Homo sapiens: one gene and its partner. The protein of the gene in region 2 purifies or fractionates together with the protein of the main gene of each other region. This does not show direct contact. Each region holds a gene or a part of one and is shown on either strand. Other genes may lie near its edges.

Region 1 (7,409 bases), on a different chromosome or scaffold from region 2:
TGTAGTCTCAGCTACTCGGGAAGCGGAGGCTGCAGGATTGCTTGTGCCCAGGAGTTCAAGACCAACGTACGGAGACCCCGTCTCTTAAAAAAAAAGTAAAGAAGGCCGGGCACGGTGGCTCACGCCTGTAATCCCAGCACTTTGGGAGGCCGAGGCGGGCAGCTCACGAGGTCAGATCAAGACCACCCTGGCTAACACGGTGAAATCCTGTCTCTACTAAAAATACAAAAAATTAGCCGGGGTGTGGTGGCGGGCACCTGTAGTCCCAGCTACTCGGGAGGCTGAGGCAGGAGAATGGCGTGAACCTGGGAGGCGGAGCTTGCAATGAGATGAGATTGTGCCACCGCACTCCAGCCTGGGAGACAGAGCAAGACTCCGTCTCAAAAAAAAAAAAAAAAGGTAAACAAGAAATTCTGGTCCCAGAGCCGTATTAGCCTCCCTGATGACTGATATCTTATATATAATTTATAAGTCCCATCTGAGAGTCACTAGTGACAAGGATTAGGAGCTAGGACTCAGGAGCCAGATGAAATTAAAAATCCAGTCCTGCCCCCTGGAATCTAAACTTAGCATCTCTGCCAGCCTCAGATTTGCTTTTTTTTTTTTTTTTGAGACAGTGTCTCGCTTTGTCACCCAGGATGGAGTAGAGTGGCGTGAACACAACTCACTGCAGCCTTGACCTCCTGGGCTCAGGTGATCCTCCCACCTCAGCCTCCCCAGTAGCTGGTACTACAGGCATGCACCGCCACACCGGGCTTTTTAAAAATCTACTTTTTGTAGACATGGGGTCTCGCTATGTTGCACAGGCTGATCTCAAAGTCTTGGCTTCAAGCGATCCTCCCACCTCGCCCTCCCAAAGTACTGGGATTACAGGCCGAAGCCATAGCACTGGGCCCGCAGCTTCCCTCTGTAAAACAGGGCCCTAAGAAGAGATGCTACGATCCTGCTCAGCCCAGCACTCAACACACGTGGGAAACAGAGCTCCATCAGTATTTCTTTCCACCGGCTGGAAAAGGTGCAGCTCACGGGGTGTGGACCGCTGGGGGAATCTCTGGACACTTTTGCCCAGCATCATCAGACACAGGAGTGGGATTTGACCTCAGGACTCAGCAGACCCAGGAGCTCCCAGTCTCAGCGCTGGGAGGAGTGAGCAATCCATCTGAGGGCCTGTGGCACCTCTATCCGCTGCACCCCCCCATACCTGCCACCTCGCCAGGCCAGACCCACCTTGTGCACGTTGATGGAGGGGAACAGGTTCTGGAACATGGTGGCCATGAGCTTCACATGCATACCATGGGGGCCAAAGCTGTTGAGTACCAGGAGGGGTGGGTGGGCAAACTGCTGCTCGTGCATGCGGTGCCGGCGCAGTGAGGAGACCACATCACGCACCAGCGAGTACTGTAGGACAGGAGAGAGGAGGGGGTGACCACCAACCACACATGGCTGCGGACAACCCCAAGTCCAGCTCCCACCCCACATGGCTTTGTACCACCTCCACCCCTCTCACCTTCTTGACCTGGAAGGTCAAGGTGGGGCCTCCTGGGAGGCGCATCAGCTTCTGCAGGAGAAGAAAAGATCAGTGACTCTGGAGGGGTCTAGCAGAGGTGCCCGGAGTAGGCACCTTTGCCCCATCTCTTCTTCAGAGCGTTTACTTTGAAGCCAGAAATCACAGCAGCTCAGAGGCATATGTGTTCATCATGAGAGATAGGGGAAGGGGGGGTCTGGGGGAGATGAAGGGTGAGGGCGTCTACTCACAAAGTAGACATTGGTCTCTGTTTTGCTCAGGATCAGAAAGTGTGTGACCCCGAGGGGCCCAGCCACTGCCACGCAGTCCTTCAGCGAGTTCTTCTTACGAACCTGGAAATGACAAAAAGAAAAAAAGAAAACATAGCTTATCCCTTGTTGTGACAACTATAAGCTGACGGTGCAGATCCTGTTATGGTCTGTCTTGCATCTGACCCTTTCAACAAGCCCAGAGGAGCAAAAGGATCTTAGCCTTTAGAGTCAGTCGGACGCAGATTTGAGTTCTAACTCTGTCTCTTGCTCACAGCGCATCTTCCCATTGACAAATGAGCGAACTCAGGCCCAGAGAGGTTAAGTAACTTGCATCAGATACTGGGGAGAAGTCAGTTTCCAACCCTGCTTTGCTGCCTCCAGATTCTAGTCTTTTTTTTTCTAACACGGTCTCCTCCGGTCGCCCAGACTGGAGTGAAGTGGCACGATCCCGATTCACTACAGCCTTAATTTCCTGGGCTCAAGGAATCCTCCCACCTCAGCCTCCCGAGTAGCCGGGACTACAGGCACGCAACACCATATCCGACTAATTTTTCTATTTTTTGTAAAGACGGGGTTTCACCATGCTGCTCAGGCTGGTCTCGAATTCCTGGGCTCAAGTGATCCTCCCGCATCAGCATCCCCAAATGCTGGGAATACAGGCATGAGCCACCACGCCCGGCTCCAGATTCCAGTCTTAACTGTCAGGCTTAGGCGACTATCTATCTCCCAAGCTGCGCGCCCTCACTCCAGCCCAGCAAAAGCCCTGAAAGGCAGAAATGATGCTCCCCATGAGGGTCTTTTTTTCCAGCTGGGGAGACTTAAGTCCTCCCACAGTTTTACAGCGGGAGCCATTACTGCAGCTACGAAGACTAGGCCGAGGGTGGGTGGAGGCGGGCTGGGGGTGGGGTACAAACCTGCAGACGGCTGGCAGTGAGCGGCTCCATGACCCGCCGCACGTCCAGGCTGAGCTGCCGGATGTTGCGACCCGTGCAGCCTCGCGTGAACACGAACGAGTGCGGGTTCGCGGCATAGGCCTCGAGGTTGCGGAGCTGCGCCTGGGCGCGGGCGCGCTTCTGGTGCCGGGACTGCGGCGACGAGAGACAAAGGGTCAGCGCCGCGACCTCGGCCGGGACCCCACCTGCGCCACCTGCCTCCCAAGCTGCCGGGCCTTACCCTCCCTGACTGTCCCATGCTGCTGTGTCCTCCACGAGGCCTCCTGCGTCCGCCGCTTCCGGCGCTGCGCAGCTCACTTCCGGCGCCTGAGAGCCGGCACGGCGTGGGACGACATCAGGCGGGCCTGCGCACTAGGTGGCCTCTGGGAGCGGGGAGGGGCAATCAGATGGAGCGGTTGCTATGGAGACACGGGTGCCTGTTTCTAGGGAGACCGGGGCGGGGCTACGCGGCTCCGGGCTGCAGAGAAACGAATCCGCCGGTTCGAATCCCGCTTCGGCCCATTTCCTCCAGCTGGGCTAAAACCACTTTCTGCATTCCGAGGCTCCTAAAATATCCCAAAGTAAGGCTGATAATGTCCCCCGGGCCCACGAATTAGGAGCGACCATGTATGCACAATGTTGGGCGCTCTGGCGCCAAGTACTTGGGGAGAAGCCACCGGAGGGAATGACTGTGGCAATCATTCACTTTAGTCTCGCAACTCCTCTGGGCCAGCTGTCCTCCCCGGGTACCCCTGTCTGCAGACAGGCTGAGGGATGGAAACTCCACATCACCTTCTGGAAACTCAGGGCAAGGCGGGCGTTTCGTGAATAACTCGCCCCCTCCTTCTTTCCGCTCAAAGCCTCAGTCTTGGCCTCAGGCCTCTGGCTTCTTCCCCAAAACCTTGCAGTGGGGGAAAGGGACACCCCCTCACTGGGCTGAACATTACTCTCTCCTCCCCCATCGGCCTCCTCTCCCTCCTTGCTCTCTCTGGCACCCCAATTCTTCCTCCTCTCCCCCAGATGTGTCTCCCCTCCCCCTCGTCTTCCCCCTGTCTCTTTCTCCCTCTTGTAACTTTGTCTCTGTCATCAGTTGTCTCTTTCATCATTTATAACTGAAGATGGAAACTAAAGAAGTTTCCTTTCTCTGTGTCTGGCCCCATCCCTGTTTCTTTCTTCTCATCTGCCTCCCTGTGGTCTCTCCCCATCTTCCCATCTCTCTCTGTCTCTCCCCATCTCCCCGTCTCTCCCTTTCTCTGCCATCTCCCTATGTCTCTCCCATCTCCCTATGCCTCTCCCATCTCCATCTGTCTGACTCTCTGTATTCTTCAGCCCCTCTCTGTGACTTATGAAGTTCCCTCCCTCTCTACTGCCAATGGGGAAGCCAGAGGGGGCTGAGGGTGGGGGGCCGAGGGGCCCAGTGTGGGGGCCCCAACCCAGGCCCAGAGCCCAGCCTGGCAGCCTCTCTCAGATCTGGGACGACCATTTCCTTTTTCAACCCTGGAGTCCACTCGAGTTACTCGGGAGCTCAGGATGGTGCAGACCAGGGGAAGGAGGTGACTCTCCCGGCGTGTGGCTGGTCGTCGGTGGGGCCTTTGGACAGGTCTCAGACCCTGGGCCTGGGCTCTGTGGGGCTCTATGTGAGTTTCTTTGTACCCCTGGGAAATGACTGCATGGTTACTTCCCCCAGTTCCGTCCTCGTGTGATTTGACTTGTGTGAAAATGTGACCGAGTGTGTGGGAGACAGACGGTGACCTCTGTGGTGCGGTGGATAGGTTTCCGGGTGTCAACTGTGTGTACCTGTTTTGTATCTGTGCACTACTGTGTGATCACAAGAACCAGGATGTGGACAAGCCTGACACACAGATAAAGACCCACTCAGCCCACCCCATTTCCCTTTAAGTTGTGATGTGTGTGTGACCATATTTGGAACATACAGTTGTTGCCTGAAACTGTTATGTTTCCAGCTGTGTCTTTTTAAAAATTTTTTTTAATCAATGAGATATCCTTTATTTATGAAAGCATAGTTCCAATGCAGAAGTCAAGCTTTATGGTTATATATTAGGATAGGTTCAGATCCAATATGACAATGTTTAGCACTAACTTTAACATGTTAAAGCTCTGATTCCTGAATGTTTTTCTCACTTAATATATTCTCTCCAATGACAAGCTGGTGTGCTTGGCTTCTTATGCTGAAAAATATATGCCTGAATTCTATAACAAGCTATTAACAAAATCATGAATAGTTAATTAAATAAGTGCCAACACTACATGGAACTTACTGGCCACCAACTCAGAACCATAAAACTACACACACACACACACACACACACACACACCACACACACAAACAAAACAAAAAAAACACCAAAGAAAGATAGCTATCACTGTACATATGAATACTGTCCAGGATATCAGATCAATTATCAAATCCAAGGTCTCTGGTGTTTTGTCTCACAGTGTTGAATATATGAATGCTTCTCTATTATACTGACTTGTATTATTTTCAACAAATAATTATGTGGACTCAAAATCTTACATTTTTATTTCTTTTCTTTTTTTTTTTTTTTTTTTTGAGACAGAGTCTTACTCTGTCGCCCAGGCTGGAGTGCAGTGGCTCACTGCAACCTCCGCCCCCCGGGTTCAAGCGATTCTCCTGCCTCAGCCTCCTGAGTAGCTGGGATTACAGGCATGGGCCACCACACCCGGCAAATTTTTGTATTTTTAGTAGAGACGGGGTTTCACCATCTTGGCCAGGCTGGTCTCGAATTGCTGACCTCGTGATCTGCCCACCTTGGCCTCCCAAAGTGCTGGGATTACAGGCGTGAGCCACCGCGCCCAGCCTTACATTTTTATTTCTAATTATAAAATCCAGATTAATCCAAAAAACATAAATCACATGTAACTGAGGTAGGGTTTTCACTTTAAGAATATATTGTTTCTATCACAATTTAAAAATTTACAGCTGTGTCTTTTATATTTATTTTTTATTTTAATTAATTAATTCCTCACTTTATTATTATTTATTTATTATTTATTTATTTATTTATTTATTTATTTTTGAGATGGAATTTCAGTCTTGTCGCCCAGGCTGGAGTGCATGCGGTTGCTCGATCTCGGCTTACTGCAACCTCCACCTCCTGGCTTCAAGCAATTCTCCTGCCTCAGCCTCCCGCGTAGCTGGGATTACTGGCGCATGCCACCATGCCCAGCTAATTTTTGTATTGTTAGTAGAGACGGGGTTTTAGCATGTTGGCAAGGATGGTTTCGAACTCCTGACCTCAGGTAATCCACCTGCCCCGGCCTCCCAAAGTGCTGGCTTTCAGGCATGAGCCACTGCACCCAGACTTTCGCTGGGTGTTAATGTGTGCGTGCGTGCAAATGTGTGTGTGTGTGTTTGTGTCCACTCTGTTATGTGCCCATATGTGTGTGACAGCTGTGGTGTACATGTGTGAGTTTCTGAGTCAAGCTACCTTGGCTGGCTCCCATCCTGGTCTCTTTTTGGCTGTGTGACCGCAGGCAAGTTGCTTACCCTCTCTGAGCCTCAGTTTTCCCTGCTGTAAAATGAGGGTACATACAGAATCCAGCTCAGGTTGTAAGGATCAAATACGTAAAAGGTGTGGAGAGTTTAGAGCCAAGCCCTACACACGGTAAGTCCCCAGTGATGTTCCTCTTTCTATGTGTGGTGTGTGCGTGTCTGGGGCTGGGATCACGCCTGGCTGCCCCAGGGCCTGCAGCCTCCCACGCTCTGGGCTCTGCAGTGGAGGGTGTGGGGGAAAGGGAGGGATGTCCAGGACACTGACCTGTGTTATCAGGCTCTGGTGGCCTGGGCAGGGGGGTCTGGCAATTCTGTCTCATTTCTCATTCGGGAAATGCTAAATATTTATAGTTTGGGCTCCTGGGCCCAGCATCCCAGCTCCACTCCCAGGCTCTGGGGGCTGGGGAGTGGTTACCAAGCCTCCTCTCTCCTTCTGTCCCACTGCCCTCTCCCCGTCTCTAGCTCAGAGGCCCCACTGGACCCTCGGCTCTTCCTTGGACTTCTTGTGTGTTCTGTGAGCTTCGCTGGATTCAGGGTCTTGGGCATCAGAGGTGAGAGGGTGGGAAGGTAGGTGGAGGTTGATTCTCACTGTGGGGAAACTCCGACCACAGCTTGGCTTGGGGGCCCCCAGGCCACCCCGCCACCCCAGGCTGAGAGTGTAAAAGGCAGCGGGTGTTATACACACGTCCCAGTTCTGGGGGGTTGCTCAATCTCTGTTGTGGGGGGTGGGGCATGTCAGTGATCGGGGACAAAGAGAGGACCCTACCCCCGGATCCTTGTGAGCCCCTGCTTGGTGTCTGAGTCCAGAAGTAAATGTGGCCATCTCCAGCCCAGAACCCTCCATGGCTCCTGCCTGACTCAGAGTAAAACCCAAGTCCTCCTCCGGGCCCACAGGACCCTTCACACTTTGCCCTGACACTTCTTACCTCCTCCTGCTTCCCCCTTCTCTCTTCCGGCCTCATAGACATTTCTGCCATTTCTTTTTTTTTTTTTTTTTTTTTTTGAGACAGAGTCTCGCTCTGTCACCCAGGCTGGAGTGCAGTGGCGCGATCTCAGCTCACTGCAAGCTCCGCCTTCCGGGTTCACGCCATTCTCCTGCCTCAGTCTCTGGAGTGGCTGGGGCTACAGGCGCTCGCCACCATGCCCGGCTAATTTTTTTTTTTTTT
Region 2 (7,086 bases):
GTGAAGCCGTTTTAGAAAACAGGAGGCTGTTAACCTAGAGTGACCCTGTAGCCCTGCAGTGACCCTATGGCCCTGCAATTCCACTCCTAGGTGTCTACCCAAGAGAAGCAAAAGCATCGGCCACACAAAGGCTGGAGCGCGGACATTCGAGGCAGTATTATTCACGACAGCCCCCAACTGGCAACCACCCGAACGGACAAAGAAAGTGTGGAGAGCCTCTGCAGCGGCTTGACTCTGTAATAAAAACGGGTGCAGCGCTGAGGTGCTGCAGGACAGACCTCCAAACATGATGCAAAATCAAAGATGCCAAACAACCATGTACTGTATGATTCCAGCAACACGAAAGGCCCACAGAAGAAACTTACCGAGACAGAAGTGGATGAGTGTTAGGGGCCGGGACTGATGATGAAAAGAGTGAGGGAATTCTGGGGGGCGATGAAAACAACTGAAAGCTGCGCTGTGGTGCAGCTGTACCACTCTAAGTTTACTCAAACCCACAGAACCATACACCTAGAGCAGAGGAATTGTGTGGGAGGGAAACTGTACTTCAGTTAAGCTGCTTTTTTTTTTTTTTTAAAGCTGACACCACAGATCAAAGGGTTAGATCACCGTTGAGGGAAAGCACCCACGACATGAAGAAAAACTAAGTGAGGCCCCACCTCACACAACACGCAAATGAAGAACAGCAAACGGCAGCCGACTTGTAGGGAGGCCTCCCTGTGCCAGGGCCACCCAGGACACTGCCAGGCCCACTGTGGCCCCCTGAAGAGTCGCCACGACCCTCTGAGATAGGCAGTGCCGTTATCCCGACTGTATATAAAAGGAGACTGAGGCCAGAGGAGGAAGTAACCGTGCAGGGACAAGCGACACCCACAGCTGCCTCTTGAGCCAGCATCAGGCAATGCAGGAGGCACTCTGTGACCATGGGTGGAGACTGGTCCTAAACAAGACCCCGAGCACAAATCACAGGGCAAAGGATGTCAGGACCTTGCCTCATAAAGGACGAAGGATTCGGCCTAACAAAGGGCAGCACTGGCGAAAGCAAGGCACCAACAGAGAAGCGCTGTATGTGAACAAAACCAAGACAGGCGCTGTCCAGAGGACACAGGAGCCCTTGCAAGCCTGGAGGATGAAGGCAGGGTGTGCGTGAGGGGAATCCCAGGTGACTCAGGTCTCAGCTCGCACTTGGGGAGCTGAAACCCAAGGCTCAGCCAGGGCCTTCCCTCTCCCGACAGCTCCCTGCAGACAGGCACCAACCACACACAGGGTGTGGGGAAAACGGCAGCGCGGAGGCTCACGGAGCAGGCACTGCAGATGCAGGAGGGCCAAGGTGTGCAGGAGCTCTCAATGCAGAGGTGGGGATGGAGTCACTGTCACCCCTGCACACGTGCACACGATGCTCCCCAGCCCTGTGCACTGGGGGCGCTGGCAGCAGCCAACACCCTAGCTGCAACAAGCACACGCAGCGCCCAGACCCTGAGTCCTAAACACACCCAGAAGGAACCAGGGCGCCCTGCAGGAGCAGCTGTCCCACCTAGAGCCACCAGGAGCAGCGCCCAGACCCTGAGTCTCTTTTTTTTTTTTTGAGACAGAGTCTCACTCTTGTCACGTAGGCTGGAGTGCAGTGGCGCAATCTCAGCTCACCACAACCTCCACCTCCCGGGTTCCAGCAATTCTCCTGCCTCAGCCTCCCGAGTAGCTGGGATTACAGGCATTTGCCGCCACAACCGGCTAACTTTTCGTATTTTTAGTAGAGATGGGGTTTCACCATGTTGGCCAAGCTGGTTTTGAACTCCTGACCTCAGGTGATCCACCTGCCTCGGCCTCCCAAAGTGTTGGGATTACAGGTGTGAGCCACCGCGCCCGGCCCAGACCCTGAGTCTTAAACACACCCATAAGGAGCCAGGAGCGGCTGTCCCAGAGCCGCCGGGTGCTGGGAGCATCTGGGTGCCAGAAAGCAAGCAAGGGTGCAGAAACTGTCAGGCACATCATAAGGGCAGGAGCCCTGGCAGGGCAGCATATTAAAAGGGGACGGCAATGGACACAGCCGGACACACCCGTGGACAAACAGGCGAGCGGTGAGCACGGAGGAGGGAAAACTCTTCCGTTCAAGGACGCCGGCCGCGGATCAGAATTTGACAGCAGACAGACACAGCTGGCTATTAAGACTAAGGGGAGAAGGTGGAGTTTTCTAGTCTCAGAGTCTCCCCCCAGCAAGACGTATCAGCCGGGGAGATCCCTTTGACAAGGATGGAGCGAGCGCCTGAGGCAAGGGAGGAAAACAGCGCTGCACCAGGACAGGGACGCCTACTGGGGAGGACTCTGCGTCTCCGGGTCTGGGCAGGACGTGGCAGACCCCGCAGGTGTGTACAAACAGGCAGTCTGAAGTCATCCCCGTCCTGATATCTAGGAGGGCAGGCGGCATCTGGCAGAGGTTGACCCCTGAGCCACAGCCGTGGCCCCCCAAAAGGGGAAGGAGCGGAGATTTACTCCCAGCCTAAATTATTCACAAGGAAAGGGAATGTGGCTCTTTAACAAGCCATCGCTTTATGAAGCAAGGTTAACAATTTCACTTGATTCAGTGGAATATTATAAACTCTCTGGGGCCCATTTGAGGACTTCTACTTCAGGCGCAAGGTGACGATTCAGCACTTTTCACATTATTTAGAGAATAAAATTAACCCTCGCAGGCCCGGGCTGCCGCCTGTCCCCGCTGGATCTGGCCGGCTCAGCGCTTTCCCATATATAATTACAAGCTGCTATCCATCATGCGGGCGCCGCGGCGCGGACACACGGAAAGGCAGCAGTAAGCACTTCCACTAATAGAAGCAGGACCTAAATATCACTTTGATATTTTCATTTAAATCGAAACATTTTACAATAATCAGCCATGGCCTCCATGGGGATCCTGCCACTGCCCCCACAGGGTCTGGGGCTGCCCCAGCCAGGCCCTACCTCCCCGGAGGGGATTGCCTGCCAGGTTTCAGGTTGGGGAGCCCGGCCTGGCCAACCCTTGGCCCGGCAGCAGGGGCTGCAGGCTGACTCCTCCTGGGAAGTGGGTGTGAGGACTGAGGATGAGGGAGAGGATGCTTGGGAAGGGCCCGGCCCACCACAGAACGCTGTGCACAGGAAGGAGTGCGTGGCCCAGCTTCTACAGGACCCCACAGGTGAACCCAGCAAGGGAGGGGCAGGAGAGCCGCCAGAGCTTCGGGCCCGGTGTCCTTGCGGGTGGGCTGAGAAAGGGTTCCTGGGGTGCCTGGTGTTCTCGGCTTCACGGGGGCTGCAGACCCTGAGGCAGCGCCAACACAAGTGTGAGGTCCAGGTGGCAGTGAGCCGTGCTGCAGGCCCCGGGGCTCCCTCCCAAGATGCCAGGGACAAGGAGCATCTCCAGGTCCCCCAGCTCTGGCCCCTCCCCAGCCTGAGCCAGGAGGCCCCCAGCCTCAGCCACAAGCCTTAGGCCAGGTGCAGGAGCCCCCAGGGCGGGGAGAGAAACAGGCGTGAGAGGCTGGGGTAGAGGGGGCTTGTACCCGGGACCAGGCCCACTGGAGATGCTGAGGCCACGCTGCTTGTGGCGGGGAGTCCTGCTGAAGCCCAGGAGGGCAGGTGAGGCAGAGGGGAGGAGCTGGCTGCACTGCCGGGAACTTCCCAGACAGGTGAGCCTGTGAGTGCCTCTGCAACACAGGAGTCAGTCATGCCCCTAGGAAGAGGGGAGCCGCAGCCATCAGCTACAGCCCAGGTCCCCAATTCTCCACCCAGCAGTGGTGCCCCGCAATGAGCTCCAGCGCCAGCTCACTCCACCCTTGCCAGCCACGGCTCAGGCGGCCCCCTTGGCTCTGCCTGGCCCACCCCTCTGCCCCAGGCTGGGTGGGAGTGTCCCGTCCACCCCCTGCCTTCCTGGGGAGGCTGCTGGCCCCACATCCTGCAGCCCTGCGGGCTCCCTGGCCTCCAATATCCCCTTCACTGCACTGCCGCCCCCAGCAACATCCCAGGAGCTGCTCCGGCCCAGTCACCACACCCCTACCATGGGGGGCCAGCTCCTGGGGCTACCAGTGCTGCACCTGGAAGTCTAGGTCCTCTGCGCCTCACCTTCCCATGGTTCAAACCCCGCCCTGTGTTGGTGCTGTGCAACCCCGGGAAAGTTGCTGGACCTCTCTGAGTCACCTGTGAGGTGGACGTGATGGCACTGACCACCTCAGGGCTGCAGATGGGTCATCCAGCCACCACGGCAGGTACCCAGGAGTGAGCAGAGGACCAACAAGCCACAGGAACCCCGCCCACTCGGGCCCCCACAGACCACTCACCTTTGCACCCAGGGGGCAGTAGCCTTTGAGGAAGTCGCTGCAGACCTCGGCCTTGCGGGACACGTACACGTGGCTATAGGGACAGTTGCTGTTGCTGCAGATGCCCTTCAGGAAGTAGGAGCACACCGGCATCTGCAGGGAGGGCCGGCAGTGAGGGCCAGCAGGCAGCCACCCTCCAGGGCCCAGAGACGGTGGCTGGGGACCCTCCTACGGCCCCGCCCGAGAGAGAAATGGACACGCGGCACCAGCAGGCAGGAAGGGCAGCCACCACGACCTGCGGGGCAGGGAAGCTGCTGCTCAGAAGTGGGCCCCAGCCTCCCCAGGTGAGCCACACCCCTGCCGTGCTCTGTCCAGAGGAGGCATGGAGCAGCCCTGTAGCCCTGTGGCTCAGCCTCAGGGGCGCCCTCCTCTGAGTCCCTCACCTGTTCTGAGCCTGCCCACCGTCCAGGGCAAGATGGCAGCCAGGGCTCCCAACCACTAGCCTGTGGCCAGGGCTGCCCTTGGAGCCTCTCAGGCCATGGGGACCAGTGTCTAGGTGGGAGGACGAGCCACGGGCCAGCAGCCAACAGAGGGCTCTCCCTCTCCAGGCACCTGACCCGTGGGCCACAGGCAGTGTCCCTGGGCTCTAGGTGGGCAGGAGCCACCTGGAAGCAGGGCTGGTGTGGCACTGGCTGCAGGCCAGCACCGTGGAGGCCAAGGCTGTCAGCAGGAAGGGTCCAGCAGCGTCTTCCTCCCCAGCACAGGGCCGCTGGCCACAGTCAGTGCTTGTTATCACCACTGGGCTGGGAGAGGGAAAAAATGTAACTTTCCTCCCATTTGGGGGAACCTCAGGCCTAAGGAGCAATGGCTGGGCTAGGGCCACCCAGGGAGGGAAGCAGGGGGTCTCTTGCCATCTCCAGGAGACATCTCCCTGCCCCTCATGGGCCACCACGGGCTCTTCCTGGGCTGCCTGGGTGTCCAGAACAAGGATGTCACCGTCCAGCCTCAGCATGGAGCCCCCACAGAGCCCCTGCCAGCACCCCAGGGTCTCCAGTCTTGCCCCAGGCTATTCCCGCTCCCCTCCCAGGGCCTTCCTCCCTCCTGGGTCAGACCACCCTCCCTGCTCCCACTACCCTTGTCCCCCTCCCCTTCCCAGCCTGCTCAGAGCTGCTGGGGCCTGAGGAGCCCTGGGGGATCTGGGCAGACCCAGAGGCTTTAAAAAGTCACTTTTCTGGGGCAAGGTTGGGGATGGGAAAGGAACTTGTCTAAGGCCAAGGAGGGAAGAAGGGGTCCAGAGAGCCAGCGGCCAGGGCTGAGAGGGAGGGAGGGAGAAGGCAAAGAAACAAAGGGTGATTTAACGAGCGGGAGTTTATTTCTAATTGTCTTTTAACTGCAGCCGCAGAGGGGAGAGGGGCTGGGGGCCGTTTGGGGCTGGCGGTGGTGGGCTGTAGACAATTCCCTTAATGTGGTTTTTGATATAGAGCCCAAATTAGCTCTAATAAAAAGGGATGATAAAGCCAACTCTACAGCAAACGGAGCTCCTCTTGGCTGTCAGAGCGGGGCTGTTATCAAGAGGAAACTGCATTCTCATTTCAATTAACCTTGTTTGCACCCCGCCACGTCCACACAAATAACAATAACATTAATTCAGGGCACTGGTGCGGGGCGTCCACATTAGACAGCTTGGAATGTGCTCTGGCTTTGGAGCTGGGAGCTAATGAACCCGAAACTCGATGTGAATTTCCAAATTGCTCACAACAGAGTTCCGAAGCTCTATTAGGGAGAAAAATGCTGATTCTTTTCAAGTTCCTCAAGGGGAAAAGCTGTTGCGGCAGCAGCACCCCTGCCCAACACCGCCTCCCTCACCCAAGGCAGCCCTCACTCCACTCGCATGCTGTGGTCACACCGTGGCTGAGTCCGGGGCACAGGAGCTACACATGTCCCCCCCAGCCCCAGGGCTCTCTTGCTGCTTCCCAGCAGGGGACCCACCTTGGCTCAAAGCAAGTCTGTTGGGTTTCAGGCCGCGGGGACAACCACATGAGCCAGGAGTCCAGCTGTTCTCCCTCCAGCCCCTCCCTCCCGCCCTCTGCCCAGGCAGCCTCTCCACCCAGCCCCCTCACATACAGCTTCCCCCCTCCTGCCAACCCCAGTCTGAAGAGGCCCTGAGGCCTCAGCCCTGGGTCCACAGGGGCACCTGTGGGACCACCTTCCCCTAGGCATGTGTAAGGGGGGCCTGGGGATCTGGTGAGGCCTGGTGCTGCCAGGAGAAGGGAAAAGAGACCCCTGTGCGTGGTGAGCAGAGACCCTATCAGCGCTGCTTTCCGGGGAAGAGGAAGCCCAGCTGCAAAGCCTGCAATGGGGTAGAGACGGTACAGCAGACTCTAAGGACGCCAGGGCAGGGATCTGCATGTCCCAAACCCAGAGAAAGCTGTGGGCACCATCTGCCCGGAGGCCAGGTGGCTGAGGCCCCGGAGAAAGGTGCACGGGAGCAGGGCCACCAGCGCCGCACTCACCTTCTCCTTGGACACATGGTGGGAGAAGGGGCAGGTCCCATCCGTTTTCTTGCAGGTGCCCCGGACAAACCTGCAGCACCAGGAGAAACGGGTATGAGGAAGGGCCGGCAGGGACCAAGGGCAGGGCCCTGCACAGAACCTCCCCCAGGCCCACAGCGAGGGCAGGAGGGCACCTGGTGCACACGGCCACCTTCTCGGGATCGTGGATGTAGGGGCAGCGCTCGCCACGGTTGCACCTGCCGAAGCGGTTGTAGTACATGCAGTACTCCTTCCTCTTCTCCCTGCGCTGCCGC

Evidence for each region. Proteins that work in one complex are often made in the same cells at the same time.
Region 1: the proteins of ZC3H3 (region 2) and PPAN-P2RY11 purify together in Homo sapiens (affinity purification with mass spectrometry, with the first as the bait; 3 studies listed by BioGRID). This does not show direct contact.

What each region holds. Positions count from the first base shown.
Region 1 is NC_000019.10:10,101,953-10,109,361, reverse strand, and holds the start of PPAN-P2RY11 (PPAN-P2RY11 protein), read right to left. Parts: upstream 3,001-7,409; 5' UTR 2,968-3,000; coding exon 2,950-2,967; exon of another isoform or gene 2,862-2,949; coding exon 2,691-2,861; intron 1,858-2,690; coding exon 1,756-1,857; intron 1,712-1,755; exon of another isoform or gene 1,627-1,711; intron 1,559-1,626; coding exon 1,508-1,558; intron 1,399-1,507; coding exon 1,228-1,398; intron 1-1,227. Other genes in the region: PPAN (suppressor of SWI4 1 homolog), read right to left, coding at 1,228-1,398, 1,508-1,558, 1,756-1,857, 2,691-2,861, 2,950-2,967; ANGPTL6 (angiopoietin-related protein 6), read left to right, coding at 6,270-6,355, 6,706-6,810. UniProt on the Homo sapiens protein: May have a role in cell growth.
Region 2 is NC_000008.11:143,461,416-143,468,501, forward strand, and holds part of ZC3H3 (zinc finger CCCH domain-containing protein 3), read right to left. Parts: coding exon 6,967-7,086; intron 6,864-6,966; coding exon 6,794-6,863; intron 4,434-6,793; coding exon 4,302-4,433; intron 1-4,301. UniProt on the Homo sapiens protein: Required for the export of polyadenylated mRNAs from the nucleus. Enhances ACVR1B-induced SMAD-dependent transcription. Binds to single-stranded DNA but not to double-stranded DNA in vitro. Involved in RNA cleavage.